Regions from separate parts of the Homo sapiens genome. Here all the other regions are linked to region 1. The links come from fine-mapping of genetic effects on gene expression. A gene starts in region 1. Each other region holds a variant in brackets. All regions are shown on one strand. Distances are from middle to middle. Region 1 holds the start of CRACR2A (calcium release activated channel regulator 2A). Region 2 overlaps CRACR2A (calcium release activated channel regulator 2A). Region 3 overlaps CRACR2A (calcium release activated channel regulator 2A). Region 4 overlaps CRACR2A (calcium release activated channel regulator 2A).

The links. PIP is the estimated chance that this variant, and not a neighbour inherited with it, causes the effect.
Region 2: its variant is the best candidate, but not a certain one, in a credible set for the expression of CRACR2A in NK cells (Schmiedel 2018, PIP 0.70).
Region 3: its variant is the best candidate, but not a certain one, in a credible set for the expression of CRACR2A in blood mononuclear cells (TOPMed, PIP 0.89).
Region 4: its variant is the best candidate, but not a certain one, in a credible set for the expression of CRACR2A in whole blood (INTERVAL, PIP 0.86).

Annotation. Positions count from the first base shown.
Region 1 is chr12:3,750,996-3,756,126 of GRCh38, forward strand. CRACR2A (calcium release activated channel regulator 2A) reads right to left here and starts at 2,114. Exons shown (of 20, transcript NM_001144958.2): 1 at 2,020-2,114. RefSeq lists a silencer at 1,849-2,348.
Region 2 is chr12:3,709,317-3,714,472 of GRCh38, forward strand. It overlaps CRACR2A (calcium release activated channel regulator 2A), which reads right to left. Exons shown (of 20, transcript NM_001144958.2): 3 at 3,921-4,001. Among named protein-coding and RNA genes, the nearest start is that of CRACR2A, 41 kb to the right of the region's middle. The variant T/TCTC (reference allele first, on the strand shown) is at 2,328.
Region 3 is chr12:3,725,979-3,731,134 of GRCh38, forward strand. The region is part of intron 2 of CRACR2A (calcium release activated channel regulator 2A); the gene reads right to left. It also overlaps the pseudogene RNU6-174P. Among named protein-coding and RNA genes, the nearest start is that of CRACR2A, 25 kb to the right of the region's middle. RefSeq lists a silencer at 2,859-2,958. The variant C/A (reference allele first, on the strand shown) is at 2,340.
Region 4 is chr12:3,623,748-3,628,903 of GRCh38, forward strand. It overlaps CRACR2A (calcium release activated channel regulator 2A), which reads right to left. Exons shown (of 20, transcript NM_001144958.2): 16 at 3,878-3,959; 17 at 3,689-3,803. Among named protein-coding and RNA genes, the nearest start is that of CRACR2A, 130 kb to the right of the region's middle. The variant T/A (reference allele first, on the strand shown) is at 2,707.

The DNA.
Region 1 (5,131 bases):
GCCATCATCTTGGTCTCTTCTGCTCTGGTCCCTGACATTTATTCAGTTACCAGATTGCATCTACTCCATTGTTCTCTGGGTTAAAATCCCCATCCCACCACTTATTTTCTGTATGACCTTGGATAAACCACCTAACCTCTCTCTCAGTTTCCTCCTCTACAATATGGAACAATCATAGCAATCTCCTCATGAGGTTGTCAGGAGGATTAAATGAGATTAAACATGAAAATCTCCTACCACAGGCCCTGGCACATGGCAGATGACTTTTCCCCTACCCCCAAGCCTTTTAGCCCCTTCCTGTCCATTCCCACCAGCCCTGTTCAACCCCTCATGGTGACTGCAATGGGCTTCTTCCCAGGTTCTCTTCCCACAGCTTCCTCCACTGCAGTACATCCCATACCCAGGTGCAGATGACATGTTCTTCTGAACCCAGCTCCAGGAACAACACTTCCCTTCTTAGAAACCATCAAAATATCCCTAGGCTTAATAATGAAGTTTCTAGACTCGTAACACTCCAAGCCTCTGCCATCTCTCCCAGGCAGCACTCCTCACCGGATTGTCCACTACATTACTCCTTGCTCCTCAGGTACAACCCACCTTCACGGCTTTGCTCAGCCGTCCTTCCCCAAGATGCCCAGACCCAGCCTCCTATTCAAGGCCCGGCCTCAGTGCCACATCCAGGACGCCCTCTGCGAGTCACTCCTTCCAGAAGTAACCTCCCTCCTCCAAACTCCCTCTACACACTTTATAGTATAGAACCGAGAGGTGACAGGACCTCGGAAGCCGTACCTGAAGCCTCTCACTTATAGAACCGAGAGGTGACAGGACCTCGGAAGCCATACCTGAAGCCTCTCACTTATCACTTAAAAACTGCGCATGAAGTAGCTCTTATGGGCAAATACTAAACCATGAGGTTGTACATATTCATTTCACCTGAAAAGGGGCATGAACTCTGGACCCTTCAACAAAAATGCTGATTCCACGTGGAGCAAACTGCTCTGATTTCATATCCCTATGCCCACATCCTTGATAAAAAGACTCTTCGGTACATGCTGCTTTCTTCCAGAGACAAGGAACCCATCACCTCATGAGTTAGGTTCTTCCTCCTGACCCTCTGACCACCCTGGGGACTCCCACGGATTGGCTCTTTCTGTCCTCTTGAGTCACACAGAACGAATTCCTTTGAGACTCCTGGTGTCCTCCACAGAGCCAAACAGGGCAGGTTCCTAAGCACACTGTGTAAACAGATAAATGAACTCAGAGGGCTTTCCCACGTGGCAGGGTACATTCGCTGCATCCCGTGCATGCATGGGTGCACAGACACACACTCGCACACACACGGACACACACACACACACACGGACACACACACACAGACACACACACACACGGACACACACACACACGGACAGAGTCAGCACAACGCCTCTGAGCCACACAGCCAGGCCAGCACACGCGGGGGCCAGGGCGGAAGCCAAGCCCCAGCAGCCGCCCACTTCCTGACCTCCTTCCTTTGCTCTGGGAGGTTCTCTCTCTGTGTCTTTCTGACTGTCTGTCTCGGTTCTTTGTTTCTCGGCATGGCAACAGTTGTGGATGCTGCCTGCGTGGCCAGGGCTCCTAGTAGCACTGACCTGCAAGGTAGGAGTTTTGGTTCTTAGACTTGAGACCTTGGGCAAGTCACTTTACCATTCTGAGCCTCAGTTTCCTCATCTGTGAAATGAAGAGGCTGGATGAGGCTGGAGGGTTCCTAAGGTCCTTTCCTGACCAAAACCCTAGTGCTTCTCGGCTCTCCTCCAGTCCCGTTACCGAGTGACAGGGAGGGGAGCAAGGGCCAGGCCAGGCCTGGGGGTGGCAGGGGAGCCAGCTGTTCCCCCCCAAGGGCACACAGCCTCCATCCAGGCCCTCTGCGAGTTCCATGTGCGGCAGACACGCGCTCACACTTCGCAGCCGGAGGAGCAGGCAGGAAGCGCCGCCCCCCGGCCGCCCCGGCCGCCCACCCTCAACCTTCCTCCACGTTACCTTGGGCGTGTAGGCTTCCCGTGGACCTGCCCGCGCCGCCCGCTCGGCTCTCAGCTGTCAAGCAGCCGCCTGCTCCGCCCGACTCTTTCCGCTCCGAGCCGCGCGGGCTGGACCAGCCCCTCAGCGGAGCTGAACGGGAAGCGGCGCCCCCTGGACGCCCTCCGGGACGTGCGCGCGCCAAGCGGTGGGGTCCGGGCCTGCAGGCGCGACCTGAGGCCGCCAGGGAGGCTGGGTGGCGAGGGCGGGGCGGCTGCCGACTTAGCCGGCCTGACTGGTCGGGCTTCCGGGGTCCCGCTGCTCCCTAGGCCCCTTGCCCCGATTCAGGCTCCCAAGGTGGGGCATCAGTCCGGCCCTCGCTGGCTCACTGGAGAGGTGGTGTCTGGGAGTGCACCCCCGAAAACCCGGCAGCAGCCCGGCGTCACTCCGGCTGTTACCTCTGGGAGCAGAAACTAAAGGGGATCCTTATTCTTTATACTTTTCTGACTCTTCTATATATTCTACTGTGGGCATGAATCGTTAAAAACAAAACAAAACACCAAAAACCCAATACGTATTTGTTAATAAAGCACTGAGTAAATCTTCAAAGGCCTCCCGAGGTGCTCCGGCTGCAGGATAACCCCTCAGCTTAGCGCACAAGGCAAGGCCCACCCTGCCCTCTCCGGCCACAACCTAATTTTCCAGCCTCACCCTCTCTCCCTCACACACACACAACACTTTCGCTCTGGACACACTAGCTGTTGCCAAACACCAGCTGTTCTTCATGGCTGCTGGGAGTTCTTCTTTTTGCCTGGAACACCCTCCCCTTTCATCTCTGCCTGTTGAAATCCTACTCATCCATCCAGGCCCCTCTGAAATGTCACCTTTTTGGAGAACCCTTCCCCAGACACTGCCCCTGCAGAGTGCCCCAGTTCTTTCCTGGCAAGCCCATCTTTCTGGTACTGGTTTATGTAGTAGCATCCCCCTCTCACACGCGCTAAGTCCTATTCCAAGGTGGAGAGAAACAAATTAGCACTTACTGAGCAGCTGTTATAAATTACTCTGTGGAGTCCTTTCTTCTCCTTGCAGCCCAGCCAGCCACTAGCCCACAACCTCCCTCCACCCTGCCAGAGTTTCAGAAGGCTGTCAGGGGCTCTGAGGCCTGCCCTCTGGTGTGTCCCTACTGCGTGCCTTGGCTTTTCTGGCTCTGTCCTGGGTATGCTTCCCTGTGTCAACTCCCAAGGTCTGCAAGCTGGTGGCTTGACCTTCTCTCAGCCTTATGTGAGGAAAGAAGGACATTTCATTATCAGAATCTGAGAAGTGGAAGGGGCCTCAGAGATTATCCAGTGTAAAGCCTGCCCACCCATTTTACAGAGCAGAAAACTGTGACCAGAGAGATAAGGTCAGAGGCATCGGAGGTACCTACCATTGTTATTGTTGTTTTTAATAGTGTTAATACTTGCACGTTTAGATCGCCTTTCACTTCTAAATCAATGCGTTGTCATTCATTTGCCCCTTACAGTCTCAGAGGTATTACAGTGGTTAGTGCACAGACTCTGGAGGCCAAAGCCCTGGGTTTGAATCTCAGTGCTCCAACTTGCCAGCTACGTCCTTGGCAAGTTACTGGAACTTTCTCCATCAGTACAATGTGGATAGTAACAGCTCCTGCATCATGGGGTGTTCTATGAATCGAAATAAATGTGTATCTTTAAAGGGCTTAGAATAGTAGTAGGTTCATTAAAAATGCCAAATGTATTTGCTCTTATCAAATTTTTGTTATTGTTAATTGTATCACTTCACAGTTGGAATAACAGAGGCTCAGAAAGGCTGAGACTCATCCAAAAAATTGCTGCTTTGAGGATGGTTTCTCACCAAACTCCATGCAGTCATCTTTGTCTCTGATGCCATTCTGCTTCCTGTTCCCTTGTGTCTGAGTCTAACCACCTATTTAATAGGGAAGAAAAGCAACTGTCCTTTAGCCCACCTCAGAACACCTAGACATTTCATGTTGCAAACATTAACCACATCTTCTGGCTTCTATGGGGATGTCTCTAATTTGCTGGCGTTTTCTTTAACAGAACACCACGCCTCATGGTGCCCTTCAGAATCACAGAGCCATCACATTAACTGCTGCAAGTTCAGCTTGTACATTCGTGCCTCTTTTACTCTTGGCCCGTGGCAGAAAAGCGACAGGGAAAAGATGGTTCTTCCAATGTATGGATGTAGGAAACTGAGGCACAGTTGATACTCACTGATTGGCCCCAGGCTATGGAGCTAGCCTGGACCATGGGAAGGATGAGGATCTCCACCTCCTCTTTCCCCATGATTACATGATTCAGTGTTGCAGGAGAAACCCAAACTCGTTTATTCAATGAGGATTTATTGAGCTCTCTCTAGGTGACGAATAAGACCGAGGCAAGGCTGGCTTCCTGGGCATATGACCTATGAAGTCACATAGGCCAGAGGTCCCCAACCTTTTTGGAACCAGGAACCTGTTTCGTGGAAGACAATTTTTCCATGGACCAGGGGTGGGAGTGGGGGGTGGGAATGGTTTCAGGATAAAACTGTTCCACCTCAGATCATCAGGCATTAGTTAGATTCTCATAAGGAGTGTGCAAACTAGATCCCTCACATGCACAGTTCTCAATAGGGTTCACGGACCAGTACCCCATTACCGGTTTGTGGCCTGGGGTTGGGGACCCCTGACATAGGCCACTCACTTAGAAGGGCTTCATACAGAGTTTAATGCTGTCCTGCCACCTTCTTGAAATCTTAACAATTTTTGAACAAGGGGCCATATAAGTTGTATTTTACACTGGACCATTCAAGTTGTACAGCTGGTCTGGACCTAGGCTCTTCCCTAGGAGCTCTGTTTCACAGGGAATCAGCCAGGGAGTTGACAACTGCAGTTCAGTACGATGGGGGTTGTGACAGAAGCAGGGTAGCCGTGAAAGAAGAACAGGACCTTGGCCAGTATTCAGCTCACTTGGGTCATCCTCCCCAGCTGTGCAACCTGCCCAGCTGCCAATGACTTACCACTGTGCTCCTTGGTGGGAGGATGGCCTTGGTTTAGCACCAGGGCCTGTAGCCCCAGACAGCAGCTGCAAACCCTGCCACCCTAAGAGGCCACTGCTAG
Region 2 (5,156 bases), 42 kb before region 1:
AATCCAAATGAGTGGATAATCCAATAAAGAGGAGGTTTTCTTTAAATCTGCTTTGCATTATTCTTTATAGTAGCACCACAGGAAGCTGTTTCAGAAAAGTTAAGTAATTTATTGTAGGAAAACAGCTAATTCATGAATTCAATCTTAAGTCTGCCTGACTCTTTACAACCTCAGTTTCTGGCTGGGCGCAGTGGCTCACGCCTGTAATCCCAGCACTTTGGGAGGCTGAGGTGGATGGATCACTTGAGGTCAGGAGTTCACAACCAGCCTGGCCAACATGGTGAAACTCCGTCTCTACTAAAAATAAAAAATTAGCCGGGCATGGTGGCACATGCCTGTAATTCCAGTTACTCAGGAGGCTGAGGCAGGAGAATCGCTTGAACCCGGGAGGTGGAAGTTGCAGTGAGCCAAGACTGTGCCACTGCACTCTGGCCTGGGCGACAGAGCGAGACTCCGTCTCAAGAAAAAAAATTAGAAAGTAAATAAAACCTTGGTTTCTTTATCTGTACAATGAGGCTAATGATTCTTACTTGCAGAATTGTTGTAAGGATTAAACAAAAATAATGCACCCAGCATATCGAAAATACCTGATACAATATGGACTACATGGTAGCTGATTGTTATTATTATCATTCCCAGATATAATATGATTGAACCAGAGGCATTTTGTATGCACATATTAAAGGCTCCTAATGTGTATTACTAAACTGCTTTCCAGAAAACAGTTAAACAAAGCCCTAAGAACACTGCTAGGAAGACCTGTCTAAAATGCAGACCTGATCATGCCTCCCTGTTGTTTTCAGTGTCAATCTTAAACACACAGGACCACTACTACTTCTTTGGAGTCATCTCCCTCTTCTCCTACCACGTTCACTTCCTTCCAAAGTATTTCCTGTTCTCTCAGCTTTTTTGTGCCTCAGCATCTTCAAATATATAGCTCAGTCATCTGGCATGCCCTTTCTGTTTGTCTGTGCTAAGTCTTACCAGTATTTAATATCTCACTCTATTCCAGCTAATATAACAAAATACCATAGACTGGATGGCCTATAAACAATAGACATTTATTTCTCCCAGTTCTGGAGGCTGGAAGTCTGAGATCAGGTGCCAGCATGGTTGGGTTCTGGTGAGGGCCCTCTTCTGAGTTGCAGATTGCAACTTCTCACAGTGTTCTCACATGGTAAGAAAGATGGGAAGTTGGCCGGGCGCAGTGGCTCAAGCCTATAATTGCAGCACTTTGGGAGACCAAGGTGGGTGGATCACAAGGTCAAGAGATGGAGACCATCCTGGCCAACATGGTGAAACCCCGTCTCTACTAAAAATACAAAAATTAGCTGGGCATAGTGATGCGTGCCTGTAATCCCAGCTACTCGGGAGGCTGAGGCAGGAGAATCGCTTGAACCCAGGAGGCGGAGGTTGCAGTGAGCCAAGATTGTGCCACTGCACTCCAGCCTGGCGACAGAGCGAGGCTCCACCGCAAAAAAAAAAAAAAGAAAGAAAGAAAGAAAGAAAGATGGGACGTTTACTAGGTCCTCTTTTATTAGGGCACTAATCCCATTAGAGTCCTCAAAGGCCCCATTTCCTACTATCATCCACTTGGGAGGTTAAGTTTCAACATAATGAGTTTTAAAGTGACACAGTTATTCAGTCCGTAGCATTCCAAGCCTGATTTCCCCAACTCATGTCCTTCTCACATGCAAAATACACTCGTTCCATTCCAACAGCCTCAAAAGTCTCAACTCGTTCTAGCATAAACTCAAAGGCAGAAAGTCCAAAATCTCATGTAAATATCATGTAAATTAGATATGGTTGAGACTCGGTATTATTCATTCTAAGACAAATTCCTCACCAGCTGTGAACCTGTGAAATCAAACAAGTTAGGTGCTTCCAAAAACAATGATGGGACAGGGGCACGACAGATGTTCCATCTCTAAAGGGATAGGCTGAGAATGTTCCAAGTCTTTAAGTTCTCTGCCTTTGACTCGCAATTTCATCTTAAGTCATAGTCCTCCTCTCAAATTTTACTTTAAGCAGTCGAGAGAAACTAGGCCACTCCTTTAAACTTTGCTTAGATATTTCCTCAGTCAAATATCCAATTTCATCACTTGCAGGTTCTACCTTCTACAAAACACTGATGTGAGCACAACTTAGCCAAGTTCTTTGCCACTTTATAACAAGACTGGCCTTTCCTCTAGTGTCTAATAACATGTTCTTCATTTTCATCCGAGACCTCATCAGAATGGCTTTTATCATCCATATTCCCACCAGTGTACTGTTCAGGATGACTTACATCTTCTTTAAGATTGAGGCCTTCTCTACAGCTCTTCTCT[T/TCTC]CTTCTGAGCCCTCACCAGAACCACCTTTAAAAGTCAGGTCATGGCAATGTAGGCTTTTTCTAGCATGTACCTCAAAATTCTTTCAGCCTCTGTCTATTACCCATTCCACAGCCACATCCACATTTTTAGGTATTTATTACAGTGGCACTTGGTAACAAATTCAGTATTAGTTAGAGTTTAACATACAAGATGCTATACTGAGGTGGAATAAAAGGCCATCCAAAGGGCTAAATTTTGACATTTTCTCCAAACCATAGTCTTTCTTGTATGAATCACTATGAGTTTGGATAGCATATTATTATCATGGATTTTAGTGGCTGGTTGAAAATGAGAGGAAAACAAAGACAACAATGAATCTAGCCTGCAGAGATAACCCCACTTGGTATCTTAGCCAACAGTTCCCAATTATTTCCCCATCAAACCCCTAGTCTTCATTCCCTCTGCCTTCCCTATTCTCATCCTGTCTCAACCCCATCTGTCAAGAGGCTAGCAGAACCATAGTATCATAGAAAGGTTCAGGCATCAAAAATAAAGTTCAAGTGTGAACTTTGCCACCCTGTGACCTTGGGAAGTTGGCCATTTTTTTTTTTAAAGTGGGGATAACAGTTTCCTCCCTGCCTATCTGTATTAGGTCATTCTTGCATTGCTATAAAGAAATACTCGAGACTGGGTAATTTAAGAAGAAAAGAAGTTTAATTGGCTTATGGTTCTGCAAGCTATGCAAGCATGGTGCGAACATCTGCTTGGTTACTGGGGAAGCCCCAGGGAGCTCTTACTCATGGCAGAAGGTGAAGCAGGAGCTTGCATGTCAGATGGCAAAGCAGGAGCAACAGAGAGAGACACAGTTGGGGGTGAGGTACCACACACTTTTAAATGACCAGATATCATGAGAACTCACTCACTATGGTAAGTACAGCACCAAGCCATGAGGGATAGTGCTAAGCCATTCATGAGGATTCACCCCCATAATCCAATCACCTCCCACCAGGCCCACCTCCAAAACTAGGGATTACAATTCAACATGAGATTTGGGCAGTGACAAATATCCAAACTATTACTATATTACTATCCCATGGGAAGTGGCTGAAATGAGACAGCAGATGTGAAAGTGAACAGTGATGCTGTACACCAAAGTAAACACACCCTCCTCATTGCCAAGGGAGGCTGGACAGCAGGGAAATCAGGATTGGACAGGCTCCACAGTGGAACTGGCTCTGTGAGTGACCAGTGGCTGAGGAGCAGCTCTTTGCAGAGAGGGGCTAGCAGACCCTCTCTGGAGGCTTCCAGACCCTCGTGCCCACATGTAAAAGAGCTGGGCAAAGTGACAAAACCCCCTCTCCCAGAGGCCTCCCTTAAATGAACTTAAGTGATACTCCAACAAGGTGGAATAGACCCTCCATCATCTAGTATTTTTAAAACTGTCCTCAAGAAGGCTGACGAATTGTTTCTCAAATCTAAGGGCCCACTGCTGATCCTCATGAATATTAAAAAACAGCTACAATAGTGCTAACAAGGCAGGGCCTGAAGTTGGGGTCTGGGGTGGGGGCAGATCTAGTACTCTGCAACCTGTCGCCTTTTGTTCGCTCACTCACCTTGCAGCTCCCGGCTCCTCGGAGGACCTGCAACTCTTCACACCTGGAGGGTACTTTGGCCACTGGTGACTTGAATTCCACCTAGGAAACACACAAGAGATGAATCACACCTTATTTTCCACTGAGGGTTACAACAGAAGTGGCTTTATAGCAATTTTGGAAAAACTTGGGAGGAAACATTGCTCCTACCGCATTGCAGTGTTCTGGAAGAAAACAGGCCTAATTCATCCTCTTCCAGGTTTTGGAGAAGAGGAGGGAAGATGAAGGAATAGCGATGATAAGTCTGCTTAGTGACCCTGAATCCAGAGATTATGTCCAGCCTGATGGGAGCAGGCCCTTGTGCATGAGAAGGGGGTAGCCTCAGGGTTAATTGGACACTGCCCCCCTGCCCCCAGCAGAGCTCCAGCTCTCAGCAAGTGCTCTTGAAATTCTTTCCACCCAATCCACAGACGCTGTCTACACCACAGGAGCTCACCTTTGAAGATAGCGATGTAAGCATTGTGGCAAGAATCACTGCCTTCCCTGAGAAGGAAATGCAGTAGGATGTACAAGAAAGCCTAGGGGCTACATAAGGAGGGAAAGCTGAAAAACGATGGAGGAGGGACAGGCTTAGGGACAGGGAGAGGATGGGCTTCCTTGCACAGGACAGTTTGGGAGTGTTACGACTGAACCTGGAGAGCAATTTTACAGAATGCTTTGGCCACATGCTGCGTAGCATGGTCTGAGAGCATGCTTGAAATGACTGAAGGGAGCAGTAGTGATTACAAAAAGGGGATTGGGATTATCTATTGTATAATGCCAAAGCTCAAACCACAGCTAGACCTGAAGTCCAGATGTATATCACCAAGGAGGCTGGCCTCTGTGCCTCTCATATGCACAATTCATGGGAGGCAAATATTCATCAGCTGTTTCCTGTTCTATATGAGGTAACACAGCGCTCATGTTCATTCATTTGTTCAATGAATATTCACTCTGTGCAGGCACTTTTTTTAGGTGCCAAAGGCAGCAACAGGCAAATCCAGCAAGGTATTGTCCTTGTGGAGCTTATATTCCAGTGGGCAGAGACAAATAAAAATACACAGACCAAATAAGCACTTTTAGATAATGAAAAGTGCTGGAGCAAGATAACCCCCTCTCTAAGCCACCTGTTGGCACCCCTGTCCCCTGCTCCACTGGCATTGCTACCAGGATGCTGGAAGCAAACAAATGGGGAGACTTCACTCTCTGGTGTTTTCC
Region 3 (5,156 bases), 25 kb before region 1:
ATGTCAGAGACCTTGGAGATCATTTAACCCAGTGGTGCTCCACCCTATCCAATCAATGCCCTATTTTTGTAACAAATATTTAGAAACACCATCTTTACCACCTGAAATACAATTCCTAGAAAAGTCGGTCGACCCAAACGCATAAAGTAGCCCTAATTTTAATAAAAGGATAAAAAGGAAATGTGATTAATATATATAAATACATACTATATGTATATTTTATATATATACGTATATACACAGAGAGAGAGAGAGCGAGCACACACTTGGCATGTCATCTTGTGCAGGAGCCATGCTAATCTTCTTTGTATCATTCCAATTTTAGTATACGTGCTGCCAAAGTGAGCACAGAAATGTGATTCTTAATAAAATAATATGTCTGTCAATATGTACGTGCTCATGCATGCCTGCACTGGAACACATAATGAAGTAGTCAACACTTCCACCTACCTATAATGGTTAAGTTTAGATTTAACAGAAGACAAATAGAAGCCACTTCATATAAGAAGTACAAGGAAATAAAAGATCAGAGGGATATAGGAGGACAATAGAATAAAGAAGTGTTACAATGAGTTACCCCCCTTTCCTGGCCGTATATGATAACAGGAAGAAGGAAATAACCTTCACTGAGGTACAGATAACAAGCCAAATCAAATTACAAATGTGCAAGCAGAGGAAACAAGGAAGCACAGGATCCTGTCTCGTGAGCTCAGTCTTACGTATAAGTGTAGCGTCATGATAATTTATTACGCTGTGATATGGGGCAGGATAGTGACAAAGTGTCACAGAAAACATGTTTCCAGTCTGGAAATCCCACCCACTGTGTTGAGGCATATATTCGGTCTTTAGCAGTAAAGAAAAAAAAAAGAAAGAAAAGAAAGAAAGAAAAAAAAAAGTGGCTGGGCGTGGTGGCTCACACTTGCAATCCCAGCACTTTGGGAGGCCAATGCGGGTGGATCACAAGGTCAAGAGATTGAGACCATCCTGGCCAACATGGTGAAACCCCGTCTCTACTAAAAATACAAAAATTAGCCGGGCGTGGTGGCACACCCTGTAGTCCCAGCTACTCGGGAGGCTAAGGTGGGAGAATTCCTTGAACCCGGGAGGCAGAGGTTGCAGTGACCTGAGATCGCACCACTGCACTCCAGCCTGGCAACAGAGTGAGACTCTGTCTCAAAAAAAAAAAAAAAAAAAAGCTTTTAAAATGACATCCTTATAGTATGGGCGGTGAGAAGAAGAGGATGGATTGGGAAAAGTTGTTGGGTAAATCTTGAAGGAGAATATCAGAGTAAGAAGGAAGAACAAAAGGCAACCCCAAAGAAGTAACCATGATAGCTAATTTTTGCAAGAGATTTCTTATCATTGTACTACAAATATAAATATATGTGATAAGAATATTATTTTTAAAACAGCTTTTATAAACAAGTTTGAGGCGCCTCTGCTAATTTAAACTAGTATCTAATTCTACATCGGCTGGATGAAGTCTCAGATTTCCTGTTACAGACCTGCGCATGGGTTCCTTGCTTTGCGGTCACTGCATATTGTACTGTGCCCTTTTCAGTTCAGTGTATATTTGGAAATGCTCTGATCTAGACAGAATGCATGAAGCAGGGAGATCATCTCGTCATTTCGAGGTTTTGTCTTTATTCCATTTAGGCTTCTCTTCCTAAAACAACCATTTCCTAAATACCGGGCTTTTGGCTTAACTTCTTTGAAAGTGTGAGAGGCATTACTCTAGGGGACAGCCTGACCCCATTAGAAACACTCGCCAAACAAGGGCTGAAAAACTACCTATTGCATACTATGTTCGTTATTTGGGTGATGGGTTAATTAGAACCCCAAACCTCGGCATTATGCAATATCTCCATGTAACAGACTTGCAGGTGTACCTCCTGAATCTAAAAAAAAAATAAAATAAAATAAGGAATACTGATCAAGTGTAACCTCATTCATTTCTGTAATGAGGAAACAGGCCCAAGAGGGTAGGCCAACTGTAAATTTTGCTCTCCTTCCTGTCACTAAGTTCCTTGAGGGCAAGGAGGGTATGGGATACTTCTTTTGTATCTGCACACAGCTGCCAGCACAGAGCAGCACACATACCTGTCTGTGGCCCTAGACGTGCCTGCTGTCTGTATTCCATCAGGACTCTGGAGTCTCCTTTTCAACCTGAAAACCACTCGTTTCTAATTACTCATCCATAGGAAACACAGGCAACGGATCCCCAGAAGTCACTTGGGACTGAGTTTCAACACTTTTGTTTCACACAGTTTCAGCACTCACACCAGCTGCAGCTGAAGACCATAGCACTTCAATGAAAAGCAACTGACTCCCTCCCCAAC[C/A]CCTCTGCCCGTAGGCTGCTGTGGTTAGCACTGCACTCAGAGAAAGAATAAATAAAAAGCAAAAGCCCCAGTTGTTCTAAGATAACCACAGAGATGACAGATGCTGTTGCATGCAAACTTGCGGGAGAAGAGAGATAAACAGCACATTACAAATCCAACAAAGCATGGTGACGAGAAGCCTTGGCGGGCAAGTCCCGTTGCTGAGGTGTGACTTCAGAGATCAAGTGGAATGTGCCCTCTTGGTCCCATCCTCCCCTCACCCCTGCACTCTTCCTCTTTCAGCTGGCTGGGTTTAGAATTTCTTCAGTAGGGAAGAGGATTTTGCCCCGCTGGAAGAATGCTAACTCTCAGGATGAGTGATACTTTGGGAGACCCCCAGCCCCCAGCTTACAGGATAAACAAATGGCCAGGAATGAGAAAAGCTGAGGTGGAGCAGCAAAGGGAGGGAGGGTTCCTTTGGCCCACCTTTCAACCCCGAGTGGCCTCCAGAGAGCTGCCAGTTGTGGTCATGTTCATCCTGGGCTGCGGGCAGAAGGATGGCTCAATACCTTAGCTCATAGCCACCACTTCTGGGTCCCACTTCCTTCCTTCATCAAGTAGTGTAAAATGACGAGGACCCAAGACAGCTGGAAGCCACTCGCCTTGTTGTCCATGGTTGCTCCATGGCGTATTTGTCTCTTTTGTCACATTCTGGACACAACCCAACGCATCCATGTCACCAATACCACATGTAGCTGGTGGCACTGCAGCTTTCTGTTGACCTGCCTGAACTAGCCTCCAGGCACCAGGCTTGTCACTCACACCGAGCGCAGTGCCTGGCATTCAGAAGGTGCTCAATACATGTTCTTGGATTGAAAGAGCAAAAGGGCAGGGGAGCCAATTCCACTCTATGAAATGGGAAAAGCTGTCAAGGAACAGCCGTCACGTTAGTTATGAGACCACAGACGCATTGTCACCCACCTTTTTTGCAGTATGTAGCCATCTGGCCCATTTTCAGAGCTGCTCTTATCTTTGTCACGACTATCATCTCCACAGCATCAGTAATGACAGACTTAGAAGGTGAGAGGCTTAACTGTAAACCACTCCTTATTTAAAAAGACTTTGGGGCCGGGTAAGCTGGCTCATGCATGTAATTCCAGCACTTTGGGAGGACGAGGCAGGCAGGTCATGAGGTCAAGAGATCAAGACCATCCTGGCCAATATAGTGAAACCCCATCTGTACTAAAAATACAAAAGTTAGCTGGATGTGGTGGTGTGCACCTGTAGTCGCAGCTACTTGGGAGGCTGAGGCAGAAGAATCACCTGAACCCGGGAGGCAGAGGTTGCAGTGAGCCAAGATTGCATCACTGCATTCCAGCCTGGGTGACAGAGCGAGACTCTGTCTCAAGAAAAAACAAAAAGACTTTGGGAGCAGCATGATAGATTGGCTAAAATGTCAGGTTCTAGTGACAGAAAAACCTGGGTTCTGATCCTAGTTCTTCTGTGTGCGAGTTATGAGTCTTGGTGAAGCCACTTCACTCTGCTACTGTTTCCTTGTCTGGAAAAGTGAGCTAGTGCTACCACTGCCTTGGGGGGTCTGCTGAGAGAATCCATGTAATGGAGCAACACTTCTGACTGTCTTGTATTTCATTTTTATTGCTGGTCTCCATGCAATTACTCAGATAGTGCACAAAAGCAAGAAGAGAGCAGAGTTCTTTCCCTTCCACTTTTCAGCTCCCGAGATGAAAGCCTGGACATGGCAAGGCAGGGGCTGCAATCTCAAGCATACAGAAGATTAACAGAAATGGGCCGAGTGGGCAGGGGCCGATGAAGAAGAATCGCTTTCATATTAAGTCTGCCCTCCTCCCTCTGCTGGAAAAAGACAGCCTCCTTGGTTTTCAGTTTCCCCCTTGAAGAGACATGAGTACATGAGTGATTTCCCTTCCTCCTTAATACTCTATGAGAGAAACAGCACAATGTTGCTAGATGGCAGTCAACGCTCAGGCTGAACGCAAGAGGGTCAGCAAGAGGTGGTGGGGAAGATGCCAGAGCGGGGCAGGGAGGTCTCTTTAAAAGGACAGCTGCTACCCAACCCAACCAGTTGTCCACATACTAGAACTGAGTGTTTCCAGTTCTGTTGATTATTCAAAGATTTTTCAGAATTTTTAAATGTTACACACGTTCAGGGTCAACATGAAATGGCAGGTTTATTCCGTGCAGTGTTTCTTGTAATATTAACAGCAAATGACTAAAAACAACCTGTGTTCATCAGTAGGGGATTGCTAAATTATGGTAAATCCATACAATGGGATACTATGCCCCTGTAAAAAAAGAATGAGGAAGCTCTCCACATACTGAGAGGGAAAGATCACCAAGATAAATCGAGTGAAAAAGGCAAGGTTAAAAATAGTGTGTAGAGTCTGTTATAATTATGTAAGAAGTAGAGGGATGAGGCAGATATATATTTGTACTGACTTTTATCTGCAAAAAGAAATCCTGGAAGGTTGTATAGGAAACTAATAAAAGTGGTTACAAGGGAGGGGCAGGGCAGGACTGGCCAATGGAGGCAGGGATAAGATTTCGCCGAATACCTTTCTATAGCGCTTTAATTTTTGAACCACACAAATGTATTGCTTATTTGAAAAATAATACAAAAACACTGTATACACCAGCTACTGGGAAGAAAACACATCTACAGGCTACGAACAGCCTGCAGGCTTCTGGGTTGCACCTTCACATTAAGGGCTCCAAAACTGGAGAGGCAGAAAAGTTGGCAGCATTGGATCCAAGCTTTACTAGGTGTGGAGACAAGTAGGTTGTTCAGTATCTGGTGTCTGG
Region 4 (5,156 bases), 130 kb before region 1:
TGCAGAAGGCCTGCAGGCAAGGTAAAGTTGCCTAGACTGGGTGAAATAGCAGAACAAGGGCAAGGCCACAGTCTTCCCATCTCATCAAGCAGTGCTGGTGCTCTCTTGCACCAAAGGATTTTGGTTCCCTCTGGGCTGGAAGGACCCTCCAGAATCTCCTCATCCACACACATTCCTGCTCCGTCTTGGCCTCCCAGAGAGATAGTCAAATGCCATCATACACTGTAGAAATTTAGGGGCCAGGAGGGAGCATTTGGTCTGCTGCCTTGTTGAATGATTGGCCAAAGTTTCATGGCCAGGAAGTGATCAAGATGGGATAGTAAGAACTTCCTTTCAGGGAACTCCACTACCTCCCCCGAGCATCTGTTCCCACCCCACACAACCTCTTCCAAGAGTCTTTCCCATGCAGGCATGTACAGCAACTGAAGCCCTTTTTTCTTGTATGCTTTTCAGGTTGAGGGAGGAAGGGGGACTGTGAACAGCTGGCCACCATTCACTTACTAATAAGGCTTCAGAACCTTGAAGACTGTTATTAAAGCTCCCCCTCCACCCTCCCTTCTCCAGGCGAGGGAGTTGGTAAAGTGCTCAGAGCTCTTTGGAAAAATAAGGTGCTCCACAAATATAAGGTACTTATTATTTTCAGTTCCCCTCAGATCAAATTAGGTGTCAAGTTTTAATCTATCACCTGACACCTCTGATTGCTGGTTGCCAAGGCAGAATGACTTAGCTTTTCAAGAATCTAGAGAATAATTGCATTTATGATGCCACCGTTCCACACCTTCAACACACACTCTGCCATTTGACACAGCCTCCTGCACTTGTTTCTGAAACTCTGTGCTGCTGAACTGAACGCATTGCCTGGTCTATCATACTGAGTCCCAGAGCTCCTAGTGTGTGCTGGACATGCCGCAGATGTGTAGTAAAACCTTGGTGAGGGGTCACAGGCATCTTCGGAAATGACTTAGAGCTCTTCTACTCACAGGGTCATCCCTGGACCACCAGCATCAGCCTCACATGAGAACTTGCTAGAAACACAGAATCTCAGACCCCAGTCCCGACCTGCTGAAGCAGAGACTGCATTTTAAGAAGTTCCCCAGGAGAGTCCTATATATGTTAGGGTTCAAGGAGCGCTTGTTTAGCCGGGAACAGTGGTGGCTGAGAATCAAAATTCCCTGGGGAGCTGTTCGTTTTATTTTTTATTTGCAGGCTCTGAACCACTCTGGGAGAGAAGGCCCTGGCCCCTGGCCTCTGTTCCCTTTAAAAGCTCCACGTGTGATCCTGATGTTCACCCAGGTTTAGAATAATCAATTAGAGCTTAAATGTACCTTTGGCTAATATCTTAAAAAAAAGGAAAAACTCAAACTAGAAATCATATAGAAAAGCCCTGTTTACACATAAGCAATTCTGATTTAACTATGTATAGATTTGCCATCTCAGCCAGGCTTCCCGAGCCCACAGACACACCAAGGCTTCCGTGGGCCTCTTAGCAGCCACACGCCGCTGATGATTTCAGCCCCGTCCCACAAAGCAACGTCTCTGGAGGATGACTAAACTGATGCTTCAAGCTGTGATGATGGTCTTCTGAGATGTCTTCACCTCCACCACCAAACTGTTCCACCTCTTCTTCTAGATCCCAGGCTCTGTGCAAAACAGGAGCCTTAGAAACGACACCCCCTAATGACAGCAGAGAGCGTAGTTCCCCAAATTTGTCACCATCCATTCCCATTAATCCCAGACCACCTGGAGGCTTAGCCCTAGCACACACCAAAATTTAGATACTGGGGGACAACTAAATGTCTGTGAAAAGGACAGGTGACCCTGGAGAAGTTAGGCCTTCCCTTTCTTCACTTTTGAATGAGATGGCCATACTAGATGGGAGATTTTCAAAGGGAAACTCTTTTGTCTAACAAAATTGTAGCTGACCTCCAATATGCTGAAAAAGGCAAGGCAGCTCTGACGGAGATGGGGGATGAGGGACCTGGATCCGTGACCACTAAACCTTCCCTTGCCGCTCCCCAATCTCTGGGGAATGTCAGTCTGATTCCAGGGCTCCAAGGAAGAGAGTCTGGAAACCCCTGGATTAGGTAATCCCTAACATCCCTCCTGGTGCTTAACTTCTGCAAAGAAGATAAATCTGCTTGGTGCTGCCAACAACAACAACAAAAGTAAAAAAAAGAACAGAAGAGAAAGATCGTGTCGTAAACTCCAAAGTTTAGAAAGGAATTACTGCTGGATTCACCCATACCATTTGCTTCCATTATTAGTTTGGTGTACAGGCAATCTACTACCTACATTTCAAAACTTGCATTTTCTCATTTGTAAGTGCGTCAGGCACAGTAATTTTGAGAAATAACAGGTAGTAGGCAAATTCTTGAGAAACCCTTGAATCTGGCTTCCATTTTGTTCCTTATTTTTCTTGGTAATCAGAAGGATGCAGATTAACAAAAGACAGACGGGTGACCCAGACATGCAAAACTACAGAGAAACAGATTTGGGTGAAAGGGATCATGGATCTTAGGGCCAAAAGGGTCAAAGAAATGGACAACTCCAAGAGTCTGCCTTCATAGCAATGTGGTATCCATTCATTCATCCAGGAGTTGTTGGTCTCATGCAAAGCATCCAGGTTATAGCAACGAAGATGCAGCTTCTGTTCTTAGGCAGCACGGAGTCCAGTGGGAGACACAGGCCAGTAAATAAGCAATTTGT[T/A]GCAGCATGATAAATATGTGATGGGATATGCAAGGTTTTATGGGCTTGGAGCAGAGAGCTGAACATAAGCTTCATGAGGGCAGGAGCTTTGTCTCTTTTATTCACTGCTAGGATTCCCAGGCTCTAGAATAGTGCCTGCCGGTGTTTTGAACAAATACGTGAACAAACCATGAATCCTGCTGGTGGAAGGGGCGGGACATCCTGCTTGGCTGTTCTGTGAAGGAATCAGCCGAGGCCTGGCAAAAAGCAATTTGTAGCTTGTCCACACTGGCAGTGGCCTTGAGAAGCCTGCACTGGGGTGGTGGAAACACTAATGAAAAAAGCATGTACAAAACGACATACTGCAAGTAGGAATCATAAACATAGAGTCTCCCAGATAATTCAGAATGCAAAGATAACACAGTTGCTCTTGGGCCCTGCCAAGACTCTTGATTTTGAGGTGAGCCTGGAGCCCTCACATTCTGGATCAACCTCCCCTTGTGTGAAGAGCTGTGACAGAGGCCCCCAAACATTGCATGGTGTGGCTCCCGGGCAGGGCATAGCTGGGCCTACTGGAGCTGGAAAGACTCAGGGGATGGGGAGAGACGCTGGTGAGAATGAGGGAAGAATCTGGTTGTGACTCAAACACTGATTTCTCCAGGACCCTTCCTTGACACTCCACTGTGTCCCCTCCCCCAATCCAGTCCCACTCAATCATGGCCCAGCAATGACACAGCTACTGGCATAATCTGGATTTTCAGTGTCCCTCTCTCCATGAGGGCAGGGACTGTGTCTGTCTTGTTCACTTCTGGGTCCCCAGGAACTGGCCTGGTACTGGGAACCCAGACGAACAGAGGAACACATGCCTGCATCAGTTTGTTCCTGGAAAAGGCAAGTTCCGAATCAGATTTTGAAAATGCAGAGGCCCACGTGGGAGATGGACAGAGAAGAAAAAAGAAGCCACAGTCAAGCCTAAATGCTCCTAGGAAGGTCGCCAGCTCACCTCCACGCTGCTCAGCCACCGCCGGACCGACAGGAACGACTGCTTGTCTGTGAGATCGTACATGACGATGACACCATCTGCCTTTCTGAAGAACTGCTGGGTGATGCACCGGTACCTGCCACAGAAGGGCCACGGGTCAGGCATGCACGGCCTTCCCTCTGGAGCCCAGAACTTCGGGCAGCTCCTCACCTCTCCTGCCCAGCCGTGTCCCACAGCTGCAGGGCCACCTGAGAGTTGTCCACATTCAACGTCTTCACACGGTAATCAATGCCTGCAGGGTGAAATGGGCCTGTCAGGGCTGCCCTGGGCCAGGGGCACCTCACTTCCAAATCAGGAAACAATGCTTCCAACATCTGAAATCACATCAGGCCCAAGGTGACAACCCTCCATGTGCAGCTCGTGGGAGGCAAAATGGAGAAAAGAACAGAGCACTGGATGGGGAGGCATGGGACCTCAGCTCTGGTCCTGTCTCTGCCACTTATTAGCTGTGGAACATTGATCAAATCACTTAACCACTCTGAACTGTGGGCTCTTCACTGTAATACAAGCCATACACTCTTTCTTTCCCTCCCTCCCTCCCTCCCTCTCTCCTTCCCTCCCTCTCTCCTTCCCTCTCTCTCTCTTTCCCTCCCTCTCTCCCTCTCTCCTTCCCTCCCTCTCTCCTTCCCTCTCTCTTTCCCTCCCTCCCTCCCTTCCTTCACCCTTCCTCCCTCCCTCTCCCCCAACTCTCTCTTTCTTTCTCTCTTTCTTTCTCTCTCTCTCTTTCTCTCTTCCTCTCTTCCTTCCTTTCTCTCTTTCTTTCTTTCTTTCCTTCTTTCCTAAAATTCTTTCAGAGGCCCCCTAGTAAAATTCAAATGTCCTAGGGGTATGGCCTCCATCAACCAATCCAAAGGTATGTGGAGGAGGAGGAAGAAGAAGGAGAGGAGGAGGAATAGGAGGAGGAGGGTAGGAACTGGCAGGTAGAGGAAAGGACAGAACAGAAGGGGTAAGAGAAAAAATCACAGGCAACTTTCACCCTTGAGATGGATTAGAGCTCCTAATCCTACCACTGGGCTGTTCACAACCATCTCTCCAGGGGTGTGACCCTACCTGGGGTCCTCAACCCCAGAGAGAGGGGGCAAGGTCAGTGAAGTGCATTCTGCATCCCACAGCAGCCCTCATAGGTCAGGACCTCAACACAGGTGTTTTGATACAGGTATTCCCCACTCCTGCATCCTGTAAGAATGTTTGCAAAGGCATAAAGAGGTTCGAAAGTACATCCCCCCACCACCACCATAAGTTCCAGATCTTAGAACTTTAGGGCATCTCCCGCAACCTTCAGAAAGGCCTCTGGAGGGCTCAGGAAGACAAACAGCAACAGCAGCTTGGACAGATAGAGACAGAAGAGACCAAACAGATAACAAAGAGGCAGTAAATGGAAACGGTCATCCCAGCCACTGCCGCTGGGCAAAGGCTAGTGCATTAAGAC